Linked DNA regions of Homo sapiens. The protein of the gene in region 5 purifies or fractionates together with the protein of the main gene of each other region. This does not show direct contact. Each region holds a gene or a part of one and is shown on either strand. Other genes may lie near its edges. The genes, in order: PUDP, OLA1, ENOPH1, NUDT9, PGM3, BLVRA and LAP3.

Evidence for each region.
Region 1: the proteins of PGM3 (region 5) and PUDP fractionate together in Homo sapiens (co-fractionation; one large-scale study listed by BioGRID). This does not show direct contact.
Region 2: the proteins of PGM3 (region 5) and OLA1 fractionate together in Homo sapiens (co-fractionation; one large-scale study listed by BioGRID). This does not show direct contact.
Region 3: the proteins of PGM3 (region 5) and ENOPH1 fractionate together in Homo sapiens (co-fractionation; one large-scale study listed by BioGRID). This does not show direct contact.
Region 4: the proteins of PGM3 (region 5) and NUDT9 fractionate together in Homo sapiens (co-fractionation; one large-scale study listed by BioGRID). This does not show direct contact.
Region 6: the proteins of PGM3 (region 5) and BLVRA fractionate together in Homo sapiens (co-fractionation; one large-scale study listed by BioGRID). This does not show direct contact.
Region 7: the proteins of PGM3 (region 5) and LAP3 fractionate together in Homo sapiens (co-fractionation; one large-scale study listed by BioGRID). This does not show direct contact.

Annotation. Positions count from the first base shown.
Region 1 is NC_000023.11:7,075,154-7,078,653, reverse strand, and holds part of PUDP (pseudouridine-5'-phosphatase), read left to right. Parts: intron 1-1,204; coding exon 1,205-1,434; intron 1,435-3,500. UniProt on the Homo sapiens protein: Dephosphorylates pseudouridine 5'-phosphate, a potential intermediate in rRNA degradation. Pseudouridine is then excreted intact in urine.
Region 2 is NC_000002.12:174,242,033-174,245,532, reverse strand, and holds part of OLA1 (obg-like ATPase 1), read left to right. Parts: intron 1-3,500. UniProt on the Homo sapiens protein: Hydrolyzes ATP, and can also hydrolyze GTP with lower efficiency. Has lower affinity for GTP.
Region 3 is NC_000004.12:82,447,590-82,451,089, forward strand, and holds part of ENOPH1 (enolase-phosphatase E1), read left to right. Parts: intron 1-330; coding exon 331-432; intron 433-3,453; coding exon 3,454-3,500. UniProt on the Homo sapiens protein: Bifunctional enzyme that catalyzes the enolization of 2,3-diketo-5-methylthiopentyl-1-phosphate (DK-MTP-1-P) into the intermediate 2-hydroxy-3-keto-5-methylthiopentenyl-1-phosphate (HK-MTPenyl-1-P), which is then dephosphorylated to form the acireductone 1,2-dihydroxy-3-keto-5-methylthiopentene (DHK-MTPene).
Region 4 is NC_000004.12:87,456,764-87,459,955, forward strand, and holds the end of NUDT9 (ADP-ribose pyrophosphatase, mitochondrial isoform a precursor), read left to right. Parts: intron 1-1,079; coding exon 1,080-1,258; 3' UTR 1,259-2,692; downstream 2,693-3,192.
Region 5 is NC_000006.12:83,176,266-83,179,765, reverse strand, and holds part of PGM3 (phosphoacetylglucosamine mutase), read left to right. Parts: intron 1-1,009; coding exon 1,010-1,093; intron 1,094-3,500. UniProt on the Homo sapiens protein: Catalyzes the conversion of GlcNAc-6-P into GlcNAc-1-P during the synthesis of uridine diphosphate/UDP-GlcNAc, a sugar nucleotide critical to multiple glycosylation pathways including protein N- and O-glycosylation.
Region 6 is NC_000007.14:43,765,180-43,768,679, reverse strand, and holds part of BLVRA (biliverdin reductase A), read right to left. Parts: intron 1,427-3,500; exon of another isoform or gene 977-1,426; intron 1-976. UniProt on the Homo sapiens protein: Reduces the gamma-methene bridge of the open tetrapyrrole, biliverdin IXalpha, to bilirubin with the concomitant oxidation of a NADH or NADPH cofactor. Does not reduce bilirubin IXbeta.
Region 7 is NC_000004.12:17,594,198-17,597,697, forward strand, and holds part of LAP3 (cytosol aminopeptidase), read left to right. Parts: intron 1-1,212; coding exon 1,213-1,337; intron 1,338-2,848; coding exon 2,849-2,937; intron 2,938-3,500. UniProt on the Homo sapiens protein: Cytosolic metallopeptidase that catalyzes the removal of unsubstituted N-terminal hydrophobic amino acids from various peptides.

The DNA.
Region 1 (3,500 bases), on a different chromosome or scaffold from region 5:
GACATTAAATCATGACATTATTAAAATAGGCATGATTATACAATTATTTAAAATAATTTTAGGCCAGGCGTGGTAGCTCATGCCTGTAATCCCAGTACTTTGAGAGGCTGAGGCAGGCGAATCACCTGAGGTCAGGAGTTTGAGACCAGCCTGGCCAACATGGTGAAACCCCATCTCTACTAAAAATACAAAAATTAGCTGGGCGTGGTGGCACATGCCTGTAGTCCCAGCTACTCTGGAGGCTGAGGCAGGAGAATCGCTTGAACCTGGGAGGCCGAGGTTGCAGTGAGCCAAGATCAGCCATTGCACTCCAGCCTGGGCAACAGAGTGAGACCCTGTCTGAAAAATAAAATGAAATTTTAGGCAAACCGTCACACCTTGTGTGGATTTAGATGTTCCTGTTGTGCTAGTCGCATAAGTTAAAGGTAGGAAGGACTCCTGGTATTTTTGATTCTTTCTGATAACTAGTCCTCTCATGATTGGCTCTATGATGACCTCCATGGACCTGTGTGGTCCCTGTAGTTAATCCGTGTGGCTAATGACAGTGTGAGGATGCTCTTTTCATATGGCACGTTGCTGTTGATCAGCTGTGTTCAGCAGCTTTCTTTTGTCCCCTGATCCCTTGTTAAGTAGCGCTGCAGCAGTCCCTCAGCCACAGCCTTCTTCAGCATCTGGTGGACGCCTTTGTGTAATTTCCTCTCCTTAGCAGGGTGAAGAATGATTGAAGTGTTTTCTGTAGAATACAGCATTTTTGCAGAAAACACCAAAAGCATAGTCCTTGTGTATTTACTGCTCTGGAAAAAAAAGTATGGTTCAGCGAGGCCCTGCTGAAGGGCCTTCCCCGGTGCCCTGGCCAGATCCCAGGTCCAGTCACCTCCTGGGCCTGCTCTCTGCCCTTCTCCACGTTTCATAAGGAGGCCCAGCAGGCAAAGCAGCAGTGCCTCCCAGTGCGCTCTTCTTCTGTTCCTTTGGGAAACGTATCGCTCAACCGCCAATAGCTTTTTTGATTTTTTGGTTTGTTTTATTTGAGCAGGGATGTTGTGGAGCTGACAACCGCTTTTAGACAATCTGTCCTAGGTCAGAAATTCCTCAAAAGGAGCAGCCTGAGAGTGTGCTGCCACACAGCTGGAGGGACTGTCCCTGCAAGAAGGTCTTATGGTGGAGGCCTCGCCCCTCACCTCAGTCCTTCCCTCCTCCTCCCCAGGGGCGGAGAAACTCATCATCCACCTGCGGAAACATGGCATCCCCTTTGCACTGGCCACCAGCTCGGGGTCCGCGTCGTTCGATATGAAGACAAGCCGCCACAAGGAGTTCTTCAGCTTGTTTTCCCACATTGTGCTGGGAGATGACCCCGAAGTGCAGCATGGCAAGCCAGACCCGGACATCTTCCTAGCTTGTGCCAAGAGGTTCTCTCCCCCTCCTGCTATGGAGAAGGTAAGTGGGTGCCGGTGACACGGGCCGTGTTCCACAACCATGTTCCACCAAATAATATCCATGTAGTGTTTGCTAAATGTGAAAAGTTGTGGTTTGTGCTGTTGAAGGCCACTTTGCAATGCTCCCTAGAACTTGGGTATGTGGGCAGGGAGATGGTCTGGTTGGAAGATTTTGTGAGGAATCGTGGCCGCACCTAAGTCACCAGGCCAGGGAGACTCAGCCAGAATCCACTGGGTCTCAGGGACAATCTGAGAAGCTTACAGTGCCAGAACAAGGCCTATTCAGACATTTTCCAGGGAAGCGGCGGTTTTAATGATGTGGGGCTTAAAACAGTCTTATTGTCTAGGTGCAGGCTTTAAGGTGAGTATTCACTGCAGTTCAGATGTAAATCACTAAAACTCACTTCCCCTCCCCAACTGCTTATAGAGTGCTCGTTGGTTGCTGCAGTTTTTGCTTGTGTAGTGACGCTGGGTTTTTATCGCCAAGTTTTTGGACTTCCATCCATTTCTCCATTGGAAAGTGGCAGCTGGTGGGCTTGTATGCCGTGGCACCCCCTGTCCCGCACCACGGCTGCTTGACCATGCAGGGTATGCAGTGGAGACGGCCCCTGGCTCCCTCTTCTTGTTAAATAAGGCTCCTCCTCAGGTGACCTGGGCAGAGCGTTTAGAGAGCCGACCGCTTGTGGTGGCTGGGCCTGGCTCCAGATTCCTCTGACCGTTCTGTGACTGCCAAGATGGAGTCCTTGGCCTGAACGATCTGCAGGTACAGATTCCAGAATCACAGGAAGTCACCCTTGAAAGGGGGGCTCCCGCTGGCGATGTAAGTGTAAGCAGCTGGGGAGGGCATCCGTCGGGGAGTCTCTGCAAATGCCTGCTTCCCCTGGGTTCCTGCATGTGAGGACTTTTGTGGTTTGTGGGGAAGAGCCTTTCAGTGAGAGGTCTTTTTCAGGCCTCACCTCTCATTACTAACCAGTGACACCAATCACGAGCTCAGGGAAATTACTCAGAAACCTTCCCAATAAAGCGGAGCTACCGGAGTAGTCTTGAAAGACCTGTTTTTTGTTGTTGTTGTTTTGTTTTGTTTTGTTTTTTGCCCAGGGTGCAACTTACTACCTTGAGCCTATAGAGGCAGCCGGAACCTGTGCCTCAGTACACAGGCCTCTGATTCTCTGAAGCTAAGTGGGCATCCAGCAATTCAGTTCAGTTCTGACACTGACTCCTACGGTTAGCCCAGACCCCGAAGGTTAAGGCCCCAGTCCCACAAGACGCCCATTGCACGTTCCAGGGGCCACCTGTACTTCTGATTGGCTACAAATTGGGGGTTCCTGCAATCCTCTCTTCAGGTCTAATAATCCCCTAACATGACTGACAGAGCTCAGGAAAACACTTTCATACACTTGCTGCTTTGTTATGAAGGATAAAACTCAGGGACAGCCAAATGGAAGCAAGGCATTGGCCAATGTATGGCGGGTGGTTGCAATGCTCCCCTGCCCTCTCTGGGCACCTGACCCTCCCAGCACCTCCATGTGCTCACCAAACTCAAAGCTCCCCAGGCCCCTTATGTAGAGGTTTTTATGGAGCTTTCTTACGTAGGTGTGAGTGATGACATCACTGACGATTGCTCATTGAACTCAATCCAGGCCAAGGTGCCCTCCCTGGAGATGAGGGGGAGGGCTGAAAGTTCCAGTCTTGTTTGTTTGTTTGTTTGTTTGTTTTGAGATGGAGTCTCGTTCTGTTGCCCAGGTTGGAGTGCAGTGGCATGATCTCGGCTCACTGCAACCTCCACCTCCCGGGTTCAAGCGATTCTCCTGCCTCACCCTCCTGAGTACCTGGGATTACAGGCGTGTGCCATCACGCCTGGCTAATTTTTCTATTTTTAGTAGAGACAGGGTCTCATCATGTTGGCCAGGCTGGTCTTGAACTCCTGACCTCGTGATCCACCCGCCTCAGCCTCCCAAAGTGCTGGGATTACAGGCGTGAGCCACCGTGCCCAGACCTAATCTTCTAATCGCATATTTGGTCTTTCTGATGTCCAGACCCTGTCCTAAAGCTATCCTGGGTCCACTA
Region 2 (3,500 bases), on a different chromosome or scaffold from region 5:
TAGGTAGCAGATTCAGTGTGGATTTGTGAAAGTGATCAAGGGTGGCCTTTTAGATTGGTGGCAAGTAGGACAATCATGTTCTTAGGTATTCCGAGGAGCTCCTGTCATAGAGATTCCTCAATGAACAGAGCATGGCGTGACCAAGTGAGGCATGTCTTAAATTCATGTAATGTAAAACATGAGCAAGTGTGGCTGTCCTGATTTCAGTCTTTCCTGGAGCTTGAAGAGGTTTTCATTTTGAAGGGGTTTCCTGCTGTGATATAGTCTGCTTGCAGAGTAAGACTAAGTAGAGAGTTGAAATGTAAGCAAAACAAATAATTAATCAAAATACTGTAGGGTGCTATCAATAAACGTGAAAGCAAGCTATGATCATTATTTATGTTGTGAGCTTTATTGCACTAGTAAGGAAGTTAAGTTTTGAGATATTGACATACTTCTCATTCTAGAATTGTTGCAGTTACTACAACTTGATTTTAAATGGGACTATATTAAAATGGGCCATATTAAGTGTTTTCTGTACATATAGGCAACCCTCTGTATCTGTGGTTTCACATCCTTGGATTCAACCAATCTCAAATCAAAAATATTTTTTTAAAAAATTGGCTGGGCATGGTGATTCATGCCTGTAATCTCAGCACTTTGGGAGGCCGAGGTGGGTGGATCACTTGAGGTCAGGAGCTTGAAACCAGCCTGGCCAACATGGCGAAACCCCATCTCTACTTTAAAAAAACACAACAAAAATTAGCCGGACATGGTGGCAGGAGCCTGTAATTCCAGATACTCGGGAGGCTGGGGCAGGAGAAACAGCTTGAGCCCGGGGGGTGGAGGTTGCAGTGAGCCAAGGTCCCGCCACTGCACCCCAGCCTGGGTGACAGAGCGAGACTCCGTCTCAAAAAAAAAAAATTTTTTTTTAATTAAATAAAAAATGAGAATATAACAGTAAAAAAAATAGTAAACAACTATTTACCTATCATTTACATTGCATTAGGTATTATACTACACCATTGTATATAAGGGACTCAATCTGCTGGAATCTTAGAACCAATCCCCTGCAGCTATGGAGGGACGACCATAGCTTTTTAGTCATAGAGCATAATGAAATTAATGTACGTGGAAGTAACCTAAAAATATTTTATTATTCAGAATAAGTGTGTGTGCTGTTTACACTTTTAAATAAAATGCTTTCCCCTCCCAGTGTCATTGAGGTATACTTCACAAATAGTAAAATTCACTCATTTTAAAGGTACAGTTTAATGAGTTTCGGCAATTGTATTTGGTTGTAAACACTACTTTTTGTAGAATGATCTTACTTCACACAACTGTATCAGGTAGGATTCTTTGTAAGCAACACAATTCTGGCTGTTTTCAGCAGGAAAAAGAGGTTTATTGGAATAAGTGAATTACAATCTGAACAGCCAGGCCTCAAGAGGGATAAGAGCCAAGTGGTGCTGGCAGAAATGGGTCCATGTGGAGCTCAGCCATGTGAATCCCTGGATTTCTGGGTGTTTCTCATTTCCTGTCTCTCCTGTAATTCCAATTCCTGAGTAAGGAAATCCGACCGGACTTGTGTGCTTCTGTATAGATCTACAAGATATAGATTGTGGGAGGGAGACGGTTCTCTAAAGGATGGCCTGCTGATCAAAAGTAAGGACATTCAGTACAAAACCATCTAGAGAATCTCTTGGTTTTTAGCTGGGTGAATAGGAAGGCTTACTTTTTAGTCTGCATAAGGCTGATGACCCAGAAACTTAGAGGTAATATTTATAGCTAATCAGATATTGAACATTTACTATATGCCAATCGCTATTTTGAGTACTTTATATATATTATCTAATTTAATAAGTGGTTTGACATTCCCCTCCATTGCAATTTAAATTCTGTGAAGGTAGGAAGGTACCGATTGTCTCGTTCTTGCTTATTGGTATATTTCTAGTGCCTAGACTGGTGTTAGAAACATAGTAGATATTTAGTAATTATTTGTTAACGGGACACGATGGTGTTAGGAACATAGTAGATATTTAGTAATTATTTGTTAATGGGATACATATTTCCCCTTTGACGGCTGGATGTAGATTTAGTGATAAGGAGACATGTTTTTGTTTTTTGAACAAGATTTTATTCTCTTGCCCAGGCTGGAGTGCGGTGGCATGATCATGGCTCACTGCAGCCTAAATCTCCCGGGCTCAAGCAGTCCCTACTCCTCAGCCTCCTGAATAGCTGGAACTGCAGGCACACAAAACACCGTGCCTGGTTAATTTTTGTATTGTTTGTAGATGGAGTTTCACCATGCTGCCCTGAGGCTGGTTTCACAGCCTGACCAGCGTGGTGAAACCCCATCTCTACTAAAAATACAAAAATTAGCCAGGTGTGGTGGCACGCCCCTGTAATCCCAGCTACTCAGGAGGCTGAGGCAGGAGAATTGCTTCAACCTGGGAGGCGGAGGTATCAGTGAGCTGAGATCGCGCCACTGCACTCTAGCCTGGGTGACAGAGCGAGACTCCATCTGAAAAAAAAAACAACAAAAACACAAAAAAGCCTGTCTCCTTGCCCCGTGTGGTGGCTCACGCCTGCTGGAATTACAGGTGTGAGCCACCGTGCTGGGCAATTAAATGACCTCTTTTAATGAAGTAGAAAGAATATGGAGATTTGGTTTCTAGTTCTGTACTGCTTTTTCTTACCTGAGTGACCCTTTATAAATGAGCTCCTGTTGGAGCAGTGTATTATTGTGGTTGTGAGGCTTAGAGAATATTGGGGGCGAAAGTACGTTTTGATACAGTGTTCCAAACTTCTTTATTTCTGTGAGGGATAGCTCTTCTTGTTGCTATCCACTGCATCAGATGGGATTAGGTTCAATTAAGAGCATCAGAAAACCCCAGATAACCAGTTTTTTTTCTTCATGTAAAAATGTACATTTTGCAGTCATAGCTTGGTATAGTGGACCTGCTTTATGAAGTCCTCAGGAACCCATGCTCCTTTCACTTCACAGCTTGGCAATCCCTAGGATGTGGCCTCATCCTCATGGTCTAGAGCTAGGGTTCCCGAACCTCATGCTGGGGACTGGTACCGATCTGTGGCGTGTGAAGAACCAGGCTGCATGGCAGGAGGCGAGCAGCAGGCGAGTGAGCATTCCCACCTTAGCTCCACCTCCGGTCAGGTCAGCAGCAGCATTCGATTCTCAGAGGAGCGCAGGCCCTGTTGTGAACTGCGCATGCAAGAGATCTAGGTTGCACGCTCCTTATGAGAATCGAACTAATGCCTGATGATCTAAAATGGGGCAGTTTCATCCTGAAACCATCCCCCACACCCTTGGTCCGTGGAAAAATTGGCTTCCATCAGCCAATTCACGGTCCAGTCCCTGGTGCCAAAAAGGTTGGCGGCTGCTGGTCTAAGGTGTTGTGAATTCCAGGCAGCTGGTTATCCGAAGGGTCAGGGGGCCAAACTTGACTAGCAGCCTTTTTCCTGTAAACTGCCATACCATACTTCTGCCAACATCCCTTTGT
Region 3 (3,500 bases), on a different chromosome or scaffold from region 5:
GTTGCAAATACTGAATTCTGCCATTGTGATGCAAAAGTAGCCACAGACATTATTTAAATAAATGAGTGTGGCTATGTTCCAATAAAACTTCATTTACAGAAATAGGCAGTGGACTTGATTTGGCCTGCAGGTTGTAGTTTGCCGACTCTTGGTCTAGTTTATTTGTTTCTTGGCCTCTGTCTCTCTTTCTTGCTCATATTCACAGCAGCAATTTTCATAGAGTTCCATTGATTTATTTGTTACAGTTATGTAGGTAAGATTGTGGAAGAACTGGATCTTTTACAACTGATAAAAGCTAACTCTTGTATTTTCTTTTACTCTTTTATCCAGGACATTTTATTTCCTTACATCGAAGAAAATGTTAAAGAGTATCTGCAGACACATTGGGAAGAAGAGGAGTGCCAGCAGGATGTCAGTCTTTTGAGGAAACAGGTTGGGACATTTCTGTCTTAAATTCCCAAGTGTCTTAGAAATGAGGGTACCTGGAGATTTAGGACATGCTCTGAGCATTTTGTAAAATAAGTGCCCTGGTTTGATAGGGGATAGAAGTTGCAGTGACTTAGTGAGTTGCCTGCTTAGGAATTCACAGTACATAATTAAAGGCTGGATCATGTCAGTTTGTTGTTTCTGGAGTTGCTCTTTGGTTGTTTTTTTTTGTTTTGTTTTGTTTTGTTTTTTTTGTTTTTTTTTGAGATGGAGTCTCACTTCGTTGCCCAGGCTGGAGTGTGGTGGTGTGATCTTAGCTCACTGCAACCTCGCTTACTGGGTTCAGGCGATTCTCCTGCCTCAGCCTCCCGAGTAGCTGGGACTACAGGCACCTGCCACCATGCCCAGCTAATTTTTTGTATTTTTAGTGGAGATTGGGTTTCACCGCATTGGACAGGCTGGTCTAGAACTCCTGATTTCAAGTGATCTACCCTCCTCGGCCTCCCAAAGTGCTGGGATTACAGGCATGAGCTTACCACCCCCAGCCCACCCAAAAAGGGCTTAAGTTTGCAAATATATGATATTGTTAGGCAATTTAAATAGCTCTAGAAAAAGGCAACTCTAGGCTGGGCACGGTGGCTCACACCTGTAATCTCAGCACTTTGGGAGGCCGAGGTGGGTGGATCACTCGAGGTCAGGAGTTTGAGACCAGCCTGGCCAAAATGGTGAAACGCTGCCTCTACTAAAAATACAAAAAATTAGGCCGGGCGCGGTGGCTCACGCCTGTAATCCCAGCACTTTGGGAGGCCGAGGCGGGCGGATCACGAGGTCAGGAGATCGAGACCATCTCGGCTAAAACGGTGAAACCCCGTCTCTACTAAAAATACAAAAAATTAGCCGGGCGTAGTGGCCGGCGCCTGTAGTCCCAGCTACTTGGGAGGCTGAGGCAGGAGAATGGCGTGAACCCGGGAGGCGGAGCTTGCAGTGAGCCGAGATCCCGCCACTGCACTCCAGCCTGGGCGACAGAGCGAGACTCCGTCTCAAAAAAAAAAAAAAAAAAAAAAAATACAAAAAATTAGCCGGACATGGTGGCGGGCACCTGTAGTCACAACTCCTTGGGAGGCTGAGGCAGGAGAATTGCTTGAACGTGGGAGGTGAAGGTTGTAGTGAGCCGAGATGGCGCCACTGCACTCTAGCCTGGGCTACAGAGCAAGACTCCGTCTCAAAAAAAAAGAGTCCTTTCTGGGTAGAATGCAAAAGGTTTTGAGCAGTCTCTACATTTTTTATTAACGTCTCTATATTAGTCTGTTCTCACATTGCTGTAAAGAAATACCTGAGAGTGGGTAATTTTTAAGAAAAGAGGTTTAATTGGCTCACAGGTCTACAGGCTATACAGGAAACATAGCGGCATCTGCTTCTGGGGAGACCTCAGGAAGCTTCTAATCATGATGGAAGGCAAAGCCGGAGCAGGCGTCTCAGATGGTGAAAGTCAGGAGCAAGAGAGTGGGGAGGGGAGGTGCTACACACTTTAAAACAACCAGAACTCACTATTGTGAGGACAGCATCAAGGAGGATGGTGCTAAACAAACCATTCACGAGAAGTCTATCCCCGCGATCCAGTCACCTCCCACTAGGCCTCACCTCCAGCACTGAGGATTACATTTCAATGTGCAATTTGGGTGGGGACACACATCCAAGCCATGTCATTCTCCATATGACAGTACTTCATCATTTTGCACTCCCTCCTTCCTTACTGCAAGCCCCTGCTGCCCCCTCTGCAGTGCTCCTGGGTCCTCACACTCACACTCCCCTTCCAGACTCCTCACCCCAGCTCACTCTGGCCCAGCCCTCATACCTCCTTTGGTCTCCTGTGCTTTGTTCTACCCTCTTCTCCCCACCAGTCATCAGTCTGTCTTTTCCTTCCACATTGTGTGCTATGGAACTCCTGCTCTGTTGTTTTTCTTGTTAAAATTGCTTCAGTGGCAAAGATCTTACATGGTCTGCAGAGCTAACTCACTGGCAGTTATTTTCTAGTTCTATATTGGATACTGTGGAATGCTCTCTGTGGATGTTTTACTGTTAGGAATTAGGATTCAAAATGTAGTTATGTCCTTTGGGCATGGAATATTTGGGATTTTAATTTTCTGGATAACTCAGGGTTAATCTGAAATACAGTGAGTCCTTACTTAATGTTGTCTTTAGGTTCTTGGAAACTAAGTGAAATGACACTTAAATTTCAATTTTCAATTTTAAACCAACCATAACAAAACCAATTTTTTCTCCACATAAATGTTATAACAAAATGATGTTGAAGGAAATGACATTACTTGAGAAGGTCATGCCACTTGAAGTCACAGTTTCCAAGAACCTTTCAATGATGTTAAATGAGGACTTACTTTACTTTCCTCCCTTACCTTTTTTTGTTGTCAAAACCTTGTTGAAACATACATACATAGTCCCCCATTATTGTATATAAATATGTACACATGTATCTTTAGAAATTGGACTGCTTTGTCACAAGGTCATTGTTCTAAGTGGCTACTAGGATTTTTGCAAGATGTGGGAGATTATAGGAGACTGAATGTGAACCAACCTCATTACTTCACTAGCTTCTTTTTGCTGAATTCCAGGCATAAACTAATTTATGAGATTTTCTTTGTTTCTTTCTCCATTAGTTATAGTGCAGAGAAAATTATCAGATTGAGTTAAAGTCCTGGTTTGTTGATCCCAGTAGTGAATCAACAAATCAAATCTTAATTCTATCATTATGTGCTCTCTCTTCTCATATACAACATGCGTCTCAGTTTAAATTTCAGCTTTTAGCAAAAGGAAAGGTAATGTAAATTTATTAATCCAGGTTCTTTTAGGAATCATTTGTATCAGCTCCAAAGTATATGATGTTTCAATTTGCAGCCATACTAGGGCTAATGATGGAGAAAGTTGTTCTGCTGGGTTTTTGGGTCTCGTTTTAAATGACTGTTTTTTGAATAAGCAAAAAACAAACATCATGTTGTTTCTGACTTAAAGGCTGAAGAGGACGCCCACCTGGATGGGGCTGTTCCTATCCCTGCAGC
Region 4 (3,192 bases), on a different chromosome or scaffold from region 5:
ACTAAGAATACAAAAAAATTAGCTGGGCGTGGTGGCAGATGCCTGTAATCCCAGGTACTCGGGGGGCTGAGGCAGGAGAATCGCTTGTACTCAGGACGCGGAGGTTGCAGTGAGCCGTGATTGTGCCACTGCACTTCAGCCTGGTCAACAACAGCGAGACTCCATCTAAAAATAAATAAAATAAAATAAAATATTTAAGTAATGTTGCCTTGAATACTTTAATAGGCTTGTCTCTATTTCATCAGAATAAATTCTTCAAAGAGGAATTACTGGATTGCTTATTGTATCTTCAGTGCCTAGTACAGTCTGGCACACAAGATGCACTCTGATATTTACAGAATGAGTGCTTGTCAAAGAAAACTTACTTTTTAAAAGCTCTTGATAAACATTGCCAAATTTCCTACAGAAATATTCCATTTATATTCCCAGCAGTGATTGGGAGCACTTATTTTTTATTTTTTTGATAATTTAAATTTTTTTTTTTTTTTTTTGAGGTGGAGTCTCACCCTGTTGCCAGGCTGGAGTGCAGTGGTGTGATCTTGGCTCACTGCAACCTCCACCTCATGGATTCAGACAATTCTCTTGCCTCAGCCTCCCAAGTAAGCTGGGACTGCAGGCATGTGCCACCACTCCTGGCTAATTTTTGTATTTTTAGTAGAGATGGGGTTTCACCATGTTGGCCAGGCTGGTCTCGAACTCCTGACCTCAGGTGATCTACCCGCCTCAGCTTTGTTTATTTTTTTACATTTAAATCTCTCATCCCTCTTGGACTGATTTTGATGTAAGGTTTCATATTCATGTAATATAATCTCGTTTTTAAGGATAATCTTTTTAGAGAAAACTCTTTGTGTTTATCTAAAATTTAGGGACTTGGTTAAAATTTGGACATTTTGGAATACTCTAGTTTTTTTTCTTTTATTCATTCTGCTGACCAGGGATGGAATGGTCTAGTTTTTAATTCACTTGGCCGGCTAGTACAATGATGATATAAGATTATTTTAAATAAGAATACTTGACGACATAGATATGCTAAAACAGAAATGAGTTTTTCTTGGTGATGGTTTTTCTTTGGCAACCAGGTGAGATAATGGATAATCTTATGCTAGAAGCTGGAGATGATGCTGGAAAAGTGAAATGGGTGGACATCAATGATAAACTGAAGCTTTATGCCAGTCACTCTCAATTCATCAAACTTGTGGCTGAGAAACGAGATGCACACTGGAGCGAGGACTCTGAAGCTGACTGCCATGCGTTGTAGCTGATGGTCTCCGTGTAAGCCAAAGGCCCACAGAGGAGCATATACTGAAAAGAAGGCAGTATCACAGAATTTATACTATAAAAAGGGCAGGGTAGGCCACTTGGCCTATTTACTTTCAAAACAATTTGCATTTAGAGTGTTTCGCATCAGAATAACATGAGTAAGATGAACTGGAACACAAAATTTTCAGCTCTTTGGTCAAAAGGAATATAAGTAATCATATTTTGTATGTATTCGATTTAAGCATGGCTTAAATTAAATTTAAACAACTAATGCTCTTTGAAGAATCATAATCAGAATAAAGATAAATTCTTGATCAGCTATAACTTCTGTTTCATCTAGTTCTTGTTTGTCAATGCCTTCCCTCCCGCTCCCCATCTTCTGAGGCCTGAAGGATGTTCCTGCCACATCAAACTCCTTTAGGCAGAGTACCGCCACTGGATGTATAGTTTAATGTTTCATCTGATTTTTCTTTAAATTATTTCCTTCACATTTTGCTTCACATGATCTTGTTGAAGCTAATTTTGAAAATGGAAACTATGTTTTCTTGACTTTAGAAGCATTAGTTTTAAGAGGAAATTTCAGCCACTAGTCAATAGAGATCAAAATCAGTGAACAAGAGCTGATACTCTCATTTTCAAAAATTCTGAATTAAAAAAAGTCCAGGAAGTTAGTAATTTAAATCAGTATGTTCATTTCACTCTAGTGAAACTACTATATGTTGTAAATTAGTTAAAAATGGATGTTCAGAAAAGAATTGAAATCAGGACAAAAAATTACAGATGCTAGTGAGGTTGTAGAGAAAAAGGAATGCTTATACGCTGTTAGTGGGAGTGTAAATTGGTCCAACCATTGTGGAAGAGAGTGTAGAGAGTCCTCAAATATTTAAAGATATTTGACCCAGTAATCCCATTACTAGGTATATACCCGAAGGAATATAAATTGTTCTATTATAAACACATACTCACGTGTATGTTCATTGCTGCACTATTCACAATAGCGAAGACATGAAATCAACCTAAATGTTCATCAGTGATAGACTGGATAAAGACAATGTGGTATATGTACACCATGGAATACTATGCAGCCGTAAAAAAGAATAAGATCATGTCCTCTGAAAAGACATGGGTGGAGCTGGAGGCCATTATCCTTAGCAAACTAATGCAAGAACAGAAAACCAAACACTGCATGTTCTCTTATAAGTGAGAGCTAAATGGTGAGAACACATGGACATGGGAACAACACATTCTGGGGTCTATTGGAGGGTGGGAGGAGGGAGAGGATCAGGAAAAATAACTAATGAGTACTAGGCTTAATACCTTGGTGATGAAATTATCTGTACAACAAACCCTCATGACACAAGTTTACCTATGTAACAAACCTGCACATGTACCCCTGTACTTAACAACAAAATAAACACAAAGGAAAATGTTAGCCATGTGTGAATTTTAAACTTCTTGGTAGTCACATTAAAAATAAAAAGAAACAAGTAAAATGGTTTGTAATTATTTAATCCATTATATCCAAAATATCTTAATATGTGATCAATATATAATTATTAAGTAATTATTTTGGTTCTATAAAAACAGGAACAGAGGTGGAGGTCTCTGTGAGTTAGTGTTTTTTTGTTAGGAAAGAAATGTTAAAGATTGAAATAGATTTTTGAGAAAAGCATGGTTAATGTTATAAATCCCAGAGGAAAGGAGGGGGTTGGTGCTTTGGGGGTTTTTGGAAGCAAGGAAAAGGAAAGAAAAGTAGTACTGCCTTGTCTTAGTGGACATGTTTATCTCATTCTGGCTAAGGATCTCTGTTGGAAAGCCCTGTGATAGGAACTCCTATCCACCTAAGTAGGGTTGGGCTATAGCTGGAGCATCTCAGGAAAAGCTTTAGGGGAGACAGACATTATTGTTTTCTTTCCTTCAGATGTTTGAAAA
Region 5 (3,500 bases):
TGAAATAGTTCCATATTTTACAATCATTTGTCAGAAGGGCACAATTTATGACAAATTCTTTACATTAGTGGGCAGAAAATTAAAAAAAGAGCAGTGGTAATACCCAGTCATTTGAACATTTGAGGCATTGGCTTTGGAACCTGAAGGTACTCTTTTCCTCCTTATACTGGCTGAGTTTTGTGATTTGAAGCTTTAGGAAGTTTTGCTTCCATCATAATTGAAACTTTGATGACAGTTCTGTGGTCACTCCATAAAAGCCCTAAATTCTAATAGGAAATCTCATCATCTGATATATTAACTGATTATGATAAGCTTAGTAATGTGAGATTTGTTTCATTTTGCTATTTTAGAAATAAATCTCAGGCTAGCTTTAAGTACACAATGTAATTGGAAATTATTATAATCTGGAAACAGCATACTTTAAGAATTTAATAGATTTTTTTTTTTTTTTTTTTTGAGACAGTGTTGCTCTGTTGCCCAGGCTGGAGTGCAGGGGCGTGATCTCGGCTCATTGCAACCTCTGCCTCCCTGGGCTCAAGCAATTCTTCTGCCTCAGCCTCCCAAGTAGCTGGGATTACAGATGCATGCCACCACACCTGGCTAATTTTTGTACTTTTAGTAGAGATGGGGTTTCACCATGTTGGCCAGGCTGGTCTCGAACTTTTGACCTCAGGTGATCCACCCACCTTGGCCTCCCAGAGTGCTGGGATTACAGGCGTGAGCCACCGTGCCTGGCCAGATACTTTTATTTAAAAAATTAAAGAGGTGAAGATCAGGAGATACAGGCTTCTTAAAAGAGGAATTCTCATAGAATTGTTTTAAATAGTGTTCAAATGTATTTTAGGCTTTTTTCCTGGCATACATGTAAATTTTCAGTCAGACATTTTTGGCATAAACTAAGGCACAACTGAACTGGCTGATAATTTTGGTAGCCTTTAGAACTCTCATTATATTTGTTTTTGTAGACCATACTTTTGATGGCAAGTTAAGTATCATTGTTTTTGTCTAGATTGGAGAAAGTTTGAATATTGGTGTTGTACAAACTGCATATGCAAATGGAAGTTCAACACGGTATCTTGAAGAAGTTATGAAGGTATTGAACCATTTTTGTTTTCTGGTAGTTTCTTAATTAAGATCATGTTTCTGTGAGAAAGATACTGCCCTCATAAAAGTGATTATGTTGTAGTGCATGAAGCTGAGCTGCTGTTCATGTAAAGGTAAAGAGAAATAAATAAGAAAAAATTTAGTTGTCCTTGATGAATAAAGGAAAACTTCTTTCCTTCCTTTTCTTGGAGTTTTCCTTTAGAAAACTTGGAATTCTTTCTCTGTGCCTTTGTAATGAATGTAAGTCTTTCTAAAGGCCTAATAAGCCAGTTTTATAGCTCAGGAATACTTTTCTTTAAGGGCCTAGAGTCACCAATTTCAAATATAAACATCAAGGAAGATAGCTCACCTATCTCCCAGTCTCAGGAGAGTTTAACTTAGGTGTTTGCGTCCAATTTGTAACTATCTACCTGTCACAGAGGTATGAAAAGTTTTATTACTCCTTTAGAGAAGGGCAGTTAACACAGGTGGCCATCCCTATTACCAAGTAAGTTTAGGATAAACTATGTGTGTGACAAATGGTGGTTTCAAGTTTTCCTATTTGAGGACTAGTGTTAAAGAAAAAATAATTCATGACACTTGTTAAAATGGTAAGGCAGACTTGATTCAGGACTGTTGTGATAGGTACAGGGACTAATGTGATGGAGTTTTGCAGTGGTAGGAGAAAGATTGGGCTCAACTCCAAATATAGTAAGGAAAAGTAGGGCTTTATAGCCAAGGAGCAGGGTGTGTGGGGGGTGGTCAGTGGATGAAAAATTACTGAGAGGAAACATGAGGGTAAGTGGGTGGTATTTTGGCTAAACTGATCTAACAGGACTTTTGCTGAAGGTAGGCCAGGGCGGTCACATATTACCTGGGGGATGGTAGAGAATGAGAACTCAGATCAGATGTCAAGAGTGGTCATGTATCAGGATGAGGGATTCTCGCTAAGCTCACTTAGCATGACTCTTATTAAAATCGGGCTATTGGAAGACATGCCTAAGGACAAGGCCTAGTCAGGCCCACCTAAACCTAACTAAAGTTTGGTCAAGGAGAGAATTTTTGTCATTAGCCATCTTTTATCTTAGCAAATTGTATTGGAATGTGTCCGCTTGGCTATATTAAAGGGTGAGCGTTTATCTTTGCTATCTCTTAGCAAATTAGCCTGTGATTGAACATCAGTTTGGCTTAATACTTATTCAGTAATAAAACTGTTTCTTACCCTTCTTTTTTTTTTGGAGAGGTTTTCTGGGGTGGTGGGAGATTCTGTTTCTAATTATTTCCCCGGTGTCCACCAGGTGACCACCCTTGGCACCACACTACTTGCTCGGAGAGTTACCAGGGTTCATGGACAAAACTGGAAGTCTGTTTGCCTATACTTTCTCATTATCGAGAAGTTTTCCAACTTTTTTGTACCTCATTTTGTACCTCGTTCTGGCATTTATACTAGTTTTAGTTACCTTTCCATTCTCTAGAAAGCAGGAATTACAAAGTCAGATTCCTGCAGGATTTGGACAGGTAAAGTGAATGAGGGCAGCAGGGGGCTAAAAACAGGTCAGTATGTGCCAGCTGATGTCAACTGTAGTCACACTCTTCAAGAGAAGCAGGAAATCTGAATTTTCATGTGATGTTCCTATTTGTTTAAAAAGAAACAGTGGCTGGGCAAAACGAAATATATCTTGAGGCTGCTAGTTTATGACCTGATTTTAATATATGGTTATAATAAGCTCATTCAAGGGATTCCATCTGGGGCCCATTTGCCTGCCTTTCACAGGGATTGGGTTATTTCACAGTACTTGGGTTATTGTTTTAGGATTTTCATTTTCTGTCTTAAAAATTTATTACAGATAAAATAACCTAGTTTAAGAAACTGTTACTTCTCAACTCACTGTCTTCCAGATGAAATATTTTTAGCCCTTGCCATTCCTGAGGTCTCCTACATCCAATCTAATGCTGATCTTTCTTTTGCAGTTTTTCTACTATCAATCTTTCCTTAACCATTCTTAAAGCTCTCTCAGATCCATCCATCCATGACTTTCCCTATTCACTATTGCTGATCCAGCCACTATTTCTTACTGGGATTAGTCCTAGAAGCCTCCTCATTCCATTTCTTAACCTTCTAATTGAACTTGCTGCTATTTGCAAACAAAGTTTTATTGGAATAGAGCTATGTTGATTTGTTTATGTATGGTCTGTGGCTGCTTTTGCACTGTAATGGCAGAGTAATTGTGACAGAGACCATATGGCCTGCAAAGCCTAAAATATTTACTGTCTGGCCTGTTACAGAAAAAGCTTGCAATTCTGCTCTAAGCTATTCTCCACACTGTAGCTAAACAGCTTTCTAAAACAGTTAGGTCATGTCACGCCCCCACTTGTAATCTTTCGTGTCTTATAAGGAGACCCTCATCTCTCTCACC
Region 6 (3,500 bases), on a different chromosome or scaffold from region 5:
CAGATAACAGAACAGTGACAGAACAGATAACAGATAACAGAACACCCAAATGTGAGGAGGATGAGAACAGATGTGAGCCTCTCTGGGTCAGCTAGTTCATACACATTAACCCTAATCCTCAGAACCCTGGCAAAAAAAAAAGCTAGTATTAATTCCATTTTACAGACGAAGTGCCTGGAGTTCAGGGAGGGTAAAGCACCCTGCTTCACAGCCAAGGCACTGCGGCACTGCCCTGCAATTTCCAGACTTTCTGGTTCTAGACTCAAACCCAGGCTGTGCCAGAGGCCTTGACAGGTCCTGTCTTACATTCACCCAGAGAGCTTCAAGGATAAACAGGAGACCTGGTGTCCAGTCCTGTCAGTCCTGAACTACCCAAGCAACAACGACGGTCAAACGGGTCATAGGCTGTAGGCTGAATGGTTGGACTTCATCTCCAAGGTCTGCTCCAGCTCTAAATTGCTCTCTGGTTCCCAGAAAAGGAAATTCAGGTAACTCTTATAACAGGCAGAATGATACCCTCAGTCATGATCACAGAATGTAAATTCTGATTATAGCAAGAAGGCCTATCTGACTGACAGATCAAAATGTTTGCCAGAGTGTGTTGGTTAAAGTGTGGTCAGGAATACACTCTGATATTATTGGGGGACTACAAGTGGGTAGCATCTCTGTGGAGGGTAGTGCAGCAATAGCTCTTAAAATTCCAATCTGACCTAGCAATTCTACTGCTTCCTATTTCTTTCTCCAGCCCCCAAACTACATTCAGAAGAAACTGCCCTGAGTCCTTTGACCTTGCAGAAATCTCACTACTACTTGCTCTCCCTTTCTTTTTTTTTTGTAATTAACATATCTATTTGTAACTAATTTAACTTTTCCAAATTCTCATTTGCAAATGAGATTCATATAGTTAAAACTGAATATACAAACAACATATTAGGAGGATCAAAATTTACACTACTCAAACATGACTCCTTAAGACTGACTTTAACATGTTCTTTCAATTTTATTCAAATCAGATGTCCCCCCTCCAGCATTTATCATTTTAAAAAATGAATTTAATGCTATCAAAAGGTGATGTTCACTTTAATCCTGTTTGCCTTCATGTCACTGTCATGAGCCTTCATTCCAGACCACATACATAAAGAGGGCCAGCACCACATGGCCGGTGACCACGGCAACAATAGCAGCATAAAAACAGCTGTCCTTATTGGATATCCCAAGGGCGCCTCCAGATATATAAGATTTAGTTGTGAAATATAAATAACCCGATAGGAACAGTGATCATTAAAGCTGTGAAGAACAGGAGCGTCTTCAGTGTAGATGCTAATGAGCTTTCTTTTCCGAACTTAGGAGGCTGCAGTGCGTTCAGCGCCACTTTATCTGGGTGCTCCACAGTGTAGTTGTGCTGGCACAGGTGCTCGGTGGCAGGCTACTTGCTTTTCTTTTCTAATGAGATCTTAGAGGAAAGTTTTCCTATAAAAGTGGCCTACAGAACATTACTTATGAACTTTATTGTTTTCCTACATAATCTGGGGAAAGCAAAACAAAAGAAAACAAACAAACGAAAGGATGTGGAGAGATGCATATGCACGAGAAAGAAGCCTAAATGGAACTCGTACACTGGGCATCAGGGGTGTACCACCTAGAATAAGTGGCATTGCTGTTTATTTGTTTATTTTTCAGGGTCAGGGTTTTGTTCTTTAACACAGACTGGAATGCAGTGGCACGCATGATCACAGCTCACTGCAACGTCGAACTCCTGGGTTCAAGTGATCCTCCTGCCTCGGCCTCCCAAAGTTCTGAGACTGCAGGCATGAGCCACTGCACCTGGCCACATTGCTGTTTTTAAAGCACATTCAGCTGGGGTACCCCAGCTAGTTGCTCACAGAGCTGTGAGTGACTGGCAGGACCTGCCATGGTCACATAACTGTAACGGCCAGACAGATCCTTTCTGTGCTGTTTCCCCTTCTGCTTTCAACTCCCCCTTACGATAAGATGCACCGTCAGGAGAGGCAGCAATCCCAGGCCAAGCGAGATCTGGCTCCACCTTCCAACTCTCTGCCTGCCCATCACACAGCTCCCTCTCCTTTCCTCCCCATTGTCTGGCCAGGACTAGTTAAACTCTGAACAGAATCAAGGAGGAACTTTATTCTGTATTTTAATATATCTTAAAATATCTAAGACCTAATCCTGTAACAAAAAGGTTTTGGTTTGTTTAGTTTTCCTTTTTTTATTTAAATTTCAAAGGTGTACTATTTAAATGGTCAAACACAAAAACATTCTATTTTCTAACTTTTAGTATTATGCTGAGAAATATTTTCCCAAAAGACTTATATTAAATAGATACATTTTTATTTTCTTTTAGATTTTTAACTTTTTTTTTTTTTTTTTTCCCTGAGACAGAGTTTCACTCTTGTCACTCAGGCTGGAGTGCAATGGTGGGATCTCGGCTCACTGCAACCTCTGCCTCCCAGGTTCAAGCCATTCTCCCACCTCAGCCTCCTGAGTAGCTGGGATTACAGGCGCCTACCACCACACCACCACGCTAATTATTTTTAGTAGAAATGGGGTTTCGCCATGTTGGCCAGGCTGGTCTGGAACTCCTCACCTCAGGTGATCCACCCACCTCGGCCTCCCAAAATGCTGGGATTACAGGCATGAGCTACCACGCCTTGCCTTAACTTTTCTTTATTTACATTTTTATTTTTTAATCAAATCTAAATAGTATTTTGGTATATGGCATGAGATAAGGCTCTAAATTTACATTTCTCCAAATAGTTGAGTTGTTTCTACATTATCGAATATTTAATCCTTTCCCCCAGTGACTCCACATTTAAATTTTTATGAATACAGTTATTCTTTTTTTCACTTTTTTCTGCTGTATCACAGACCTCTATTCCCATGGTTATAACATACTGTTTACATGATTGTGGCTTTACAGTGTTTCAATACCTGGTAATTCAAGTTCTCTCATTAATTTTAGAACATCTTACCAAGTTAAAAAATTCCACTGGGACTGTGACTATGATTGCATCAAATTTATACATTAAATTAGGGTGAATTAATAAGCCTTCCCATCCAGAAACATGGTATGCCTTTCTAAGAGCAGCCAATTTAAAAATAAATAAATAGGCCGGGTGTGGAGGCTCACGGCTGTAATCCTAGCACTTTGGGAGGCCGAGGCGGGCGGATCACTTGAGGCCAGGAGTTCAAGACGAGCCTGGCCAACATGGTGAAACCGTGTCTCTACTAAAATTACAAAAATTAGCAGGGGGTGGTGGCACGAGCCTGTAATACCAGCTATTCGGGAGGCTGAGACATGAGAATTGCTTGAACCCAGGAGGCAGAGGTTGCAGTGAGCCGAGATCACACCACTGCACTCCAGCTTGGGCAACAGAGCAAGACTCTGTCTCTAAATAAACAAATAATTTAAAAAGAAGAATCTTGAGTTAGTTCCTGAATTATTGCATAATGACAAATAACAGCTCAGGCTGCAGTGACTC
Region 7 (3,500 bases), on a different chromosome or scaffold from region 5:
ATAGGAATTAGAGAGCAGAACTTCCAGAAGAGGCCTGCAGATAAATGTGGCAGGTGGACAGAAGAAAAACTTCAAATACAACAGCGTGTTCCCTTTGTCCATGGGGTTTACCCATGTTATTTTTCTTCTTTGAGCCAGGGGATCATCTTTAATTCTTGGTGAACATGCCAACCATCTAAGTAACAAGTGCTTCTGAGGTAAGTGAGAATTAGGATTTAATTTTGAAGGAAAGCAGACTTCAGAGCAGCAGGCAGACCTCTCTCCAGTGAGCCACCAGGGCACATGAGCAGCAGATCTCAATTAGAACTTAGAGTCGAAGCCCCTGGCTCTGTGCTTGGCCTGTGAAGCATGTTGCTTCTGGACTCCTACGGACTGGAAGCAGAAAAACCACTAGCTAGTTAGAAGCCTCTGGGGGTCAGGTAGTTTGGTTTCTTGCTAATTGCAGCCTTATTCAGTTCTCATGTTGAAGTACTGTCTCTCAGCCATTGGGCCTGTGCCTCATTTAGGTTGTATTTTGCCATCAGCAGGATATAGCACACCTTGTGCAGTGTTGGAAGGAAATGTTAGCCCTCTGTCCTGTCGGTTTCAGAGAAATGCCTCCAGTCATCTCTGTGAGCTCATCAGCTTTTCTTAACAGCTCATGACCTTCACGTTCCATAAGTTGATCAATTCATAAAATTTGCTGAATAGACTATGTGGGTGTCAGGAGTTAATCAGACAATACAGAGATGGAATTTGCACAGTCTTGATTTTATGATATAGTAATGTTTCCAGTGGCACTGTTTAAATTTCATTCAAGTAGAAATAAAATGAGCTAAAGGCTGGGCGCGATGGCTAATGCCTGTAATCCCAGCACTTTGGGAGGCCGAGGCTGGCGGATCACGAGGTCAGGAGATCGAGACCATCCTGGCTAACAAGGTGAAACCCCATCTCTACTAAAATCACAAAAAAATTAGCCAGGCATGGTGGCAGCTGGGACTACAGGCGCCCACCACCACACCCGGCTAATTTTTTTGTATTTATAGTAGAGATGGGTTGCACCGTGTTAGCCAGGATGGTCTCGATCTCCTGACCTCGTGATCCGCCCACCTCGGCCTCCCAAAGTGCTGGGATTACAGGCGTGAGCCACCGTGCCCATCTGTACTTTTTAAATAAAGTGATTTTGGCCATCTTCTTTGCTCTTAATATTGCACGTTGTCCATTTCCCCATAGTGGTGGTATCTCCATCAAGGCTTCTGCAAATATGGACCTCATGAGGGCTGACATGGGAGGAGCTGCAACTATATGCTCAGCCATCGTGTCTGCTGCAAAGCTTAATTTGCCCATTAATATTATAGGTAAGTGGGGTAACGGATTACATCTCATAACGCTTCTGGATTCTAGCCAGGTGGGAGAAGAGAGACAACAGATATGATTTCCCCTAATCTGAAAAGATAAGAAATGATTTTTAAATAGTCATCAAGCAGTAGCTATTTAGCCCAGATAAGTGTTTTACTGTCTGAGCTGATTGAGCTAAATGTATCTTGCAACCAGTGGGCTGTAACTGGAATTGATTTGTTTCACTTCTGCAAAAAGTGGCTAGCAGTCAGGGGCACATAATGTCAAGTTTGTAGTTGACATTATGAAACTTGCTGGGTACTTGGGGTGGCAGGACGTTGCTGGCTCATTGACTGATTGCTTCGTAGGATTGTGGCCGGTGAAATGGCACAACACACAGAAAGTGCCTAGAACAGAAAAAGTGCTCATTATGTGGCAGTTCTTAGTAATGGAAGATACAAACTCCCAGGCACAGTACTGGGAGTTTGTATAATAGCATTGCTCATACTCATTTCAGAGGAGACGGGGAAGGAGGAGAGAGTCTTAGGTTAAATAATAATGCCCTGACTCTTGTCCATTGCACAAGGAAGGTAGAATTGGAATCCAGGTCTCAGACATGCCCCCCTCCTTCACTATCATAGTCCTTTTTTTTCCTGAACTATTTAAAAGTCAGTTGCAGACATCACGACACGTCCTCTAAGAAAAAGGACATTCTATGTAATGACAAAACCATTATCTTTTCCGAGGATTAATTCAGTAACCTAATTCAAGTTTCCAGTTGTGTAAAAAATGTCCATTTTATTTATTTATATTTAGGTTTTTTTGGTTTTTTGGTTTTTTTTGAGATGGAGTTTCGCTCTTGTTGCCCAGGCTGGAGTGCAATGGCGCGATCTTGGCTCACCACAACCTCCACCTCCCGGGTTCAAGTGATTCTTCTGCCTCAGCCTCTTGAGTAGCTGGGATTACAGGCATGCGCCACCATGCCTGGTTAATTTTGTATTTTTAGTAGAGACGGGGTTTCTCCATGTTGATCAGGCTGGTCTTGAACTCCTGACCTCAGGTGATCTGCCCGCCTTGGCCTCTCAAAATGCTGGGATTACAGGCATGAGCCACCGCGCCTGGCCTATATTTAGCTTTTAAATCCAGAAACTAATCAAGGACCACACATTGCTGTTGGTGCCCCTTTAGATTTCTTGATTCTAGACCCTATTCCTGTTTTCTTCCACGGCATTAGCAGTTTTGAAGGGTCTAGGCTTGTTTCATGATATTCTGCAATTTGTATTTATTTGAATTGCTTCTTCTTGATTAGAATCAAGTTAGACTTCTTTGGGAAGAATGCTACATGGGTGATGTGTACTTCTTGTTGCTGACACATCATGTCAGTTGTGTCATTGGTGATGTTAAATTTGATCAGTTCGTTAAGGTGGCCTTTGTGTCTTGCTTCTCATGGCTCACAGGTGGCCTCTTGTCCCATAGGTGGCATGTTTGGACCCAGTATATACTGTGTGCCTTCATATATTATTTCCAATAGGTCTGGCCCCTCTTTGTGAAAATATGCCCAGCGGCAAGGCCAACAAGCCGGGGGATGTTGTTAGAGCCAAAAACGGGAAGACCATCCAGGTTTGTAAATGTGAGACACAGCACTCCCCATCCAGCGTTCCTCAGGAATCCCGTGGTGGCCACATAACCACAGCTAGGATGCGTGCAGAGCCCCAGAACCATATTAGGGGAGGGTGCTGTCTTTAGTGCTGGGTAGCCTTTCTTTTCCTTCCCTTTCCTGAAATGGGGTCTCGCTGCATCACCCAGGCTGTAGTGCAGTGGCGTGATCATGTCTCACTGCAGCCTTGACCTCCCCAGGCTCAGGTGGTCCTCACACCTTAGCGACCTGAGTAGCTGGGACCACAGGTGCGTGCCACCATGCCTGGCTAGCTTTTTGTAGACACAGGGTTTTGCCATGTTTCCCAGGCTGGTCCCAAACTCCTAGACTCAAGTGATCTGCCCACCTTGTTCTCCCAAAGTGCTAGGATTACAGGCGCGAGCCACCATTCCCGGCCCCTGAGTAGCTTTTCTTGCAAAGGCAGAAGTATCTTTTTTGGGGGATTTTGAAGAATGTTTTTCCAGACTTATTGTTCCTCCCATTTCCTGTATGCTATACATGTGTATACACACGTTTCCATGAATTT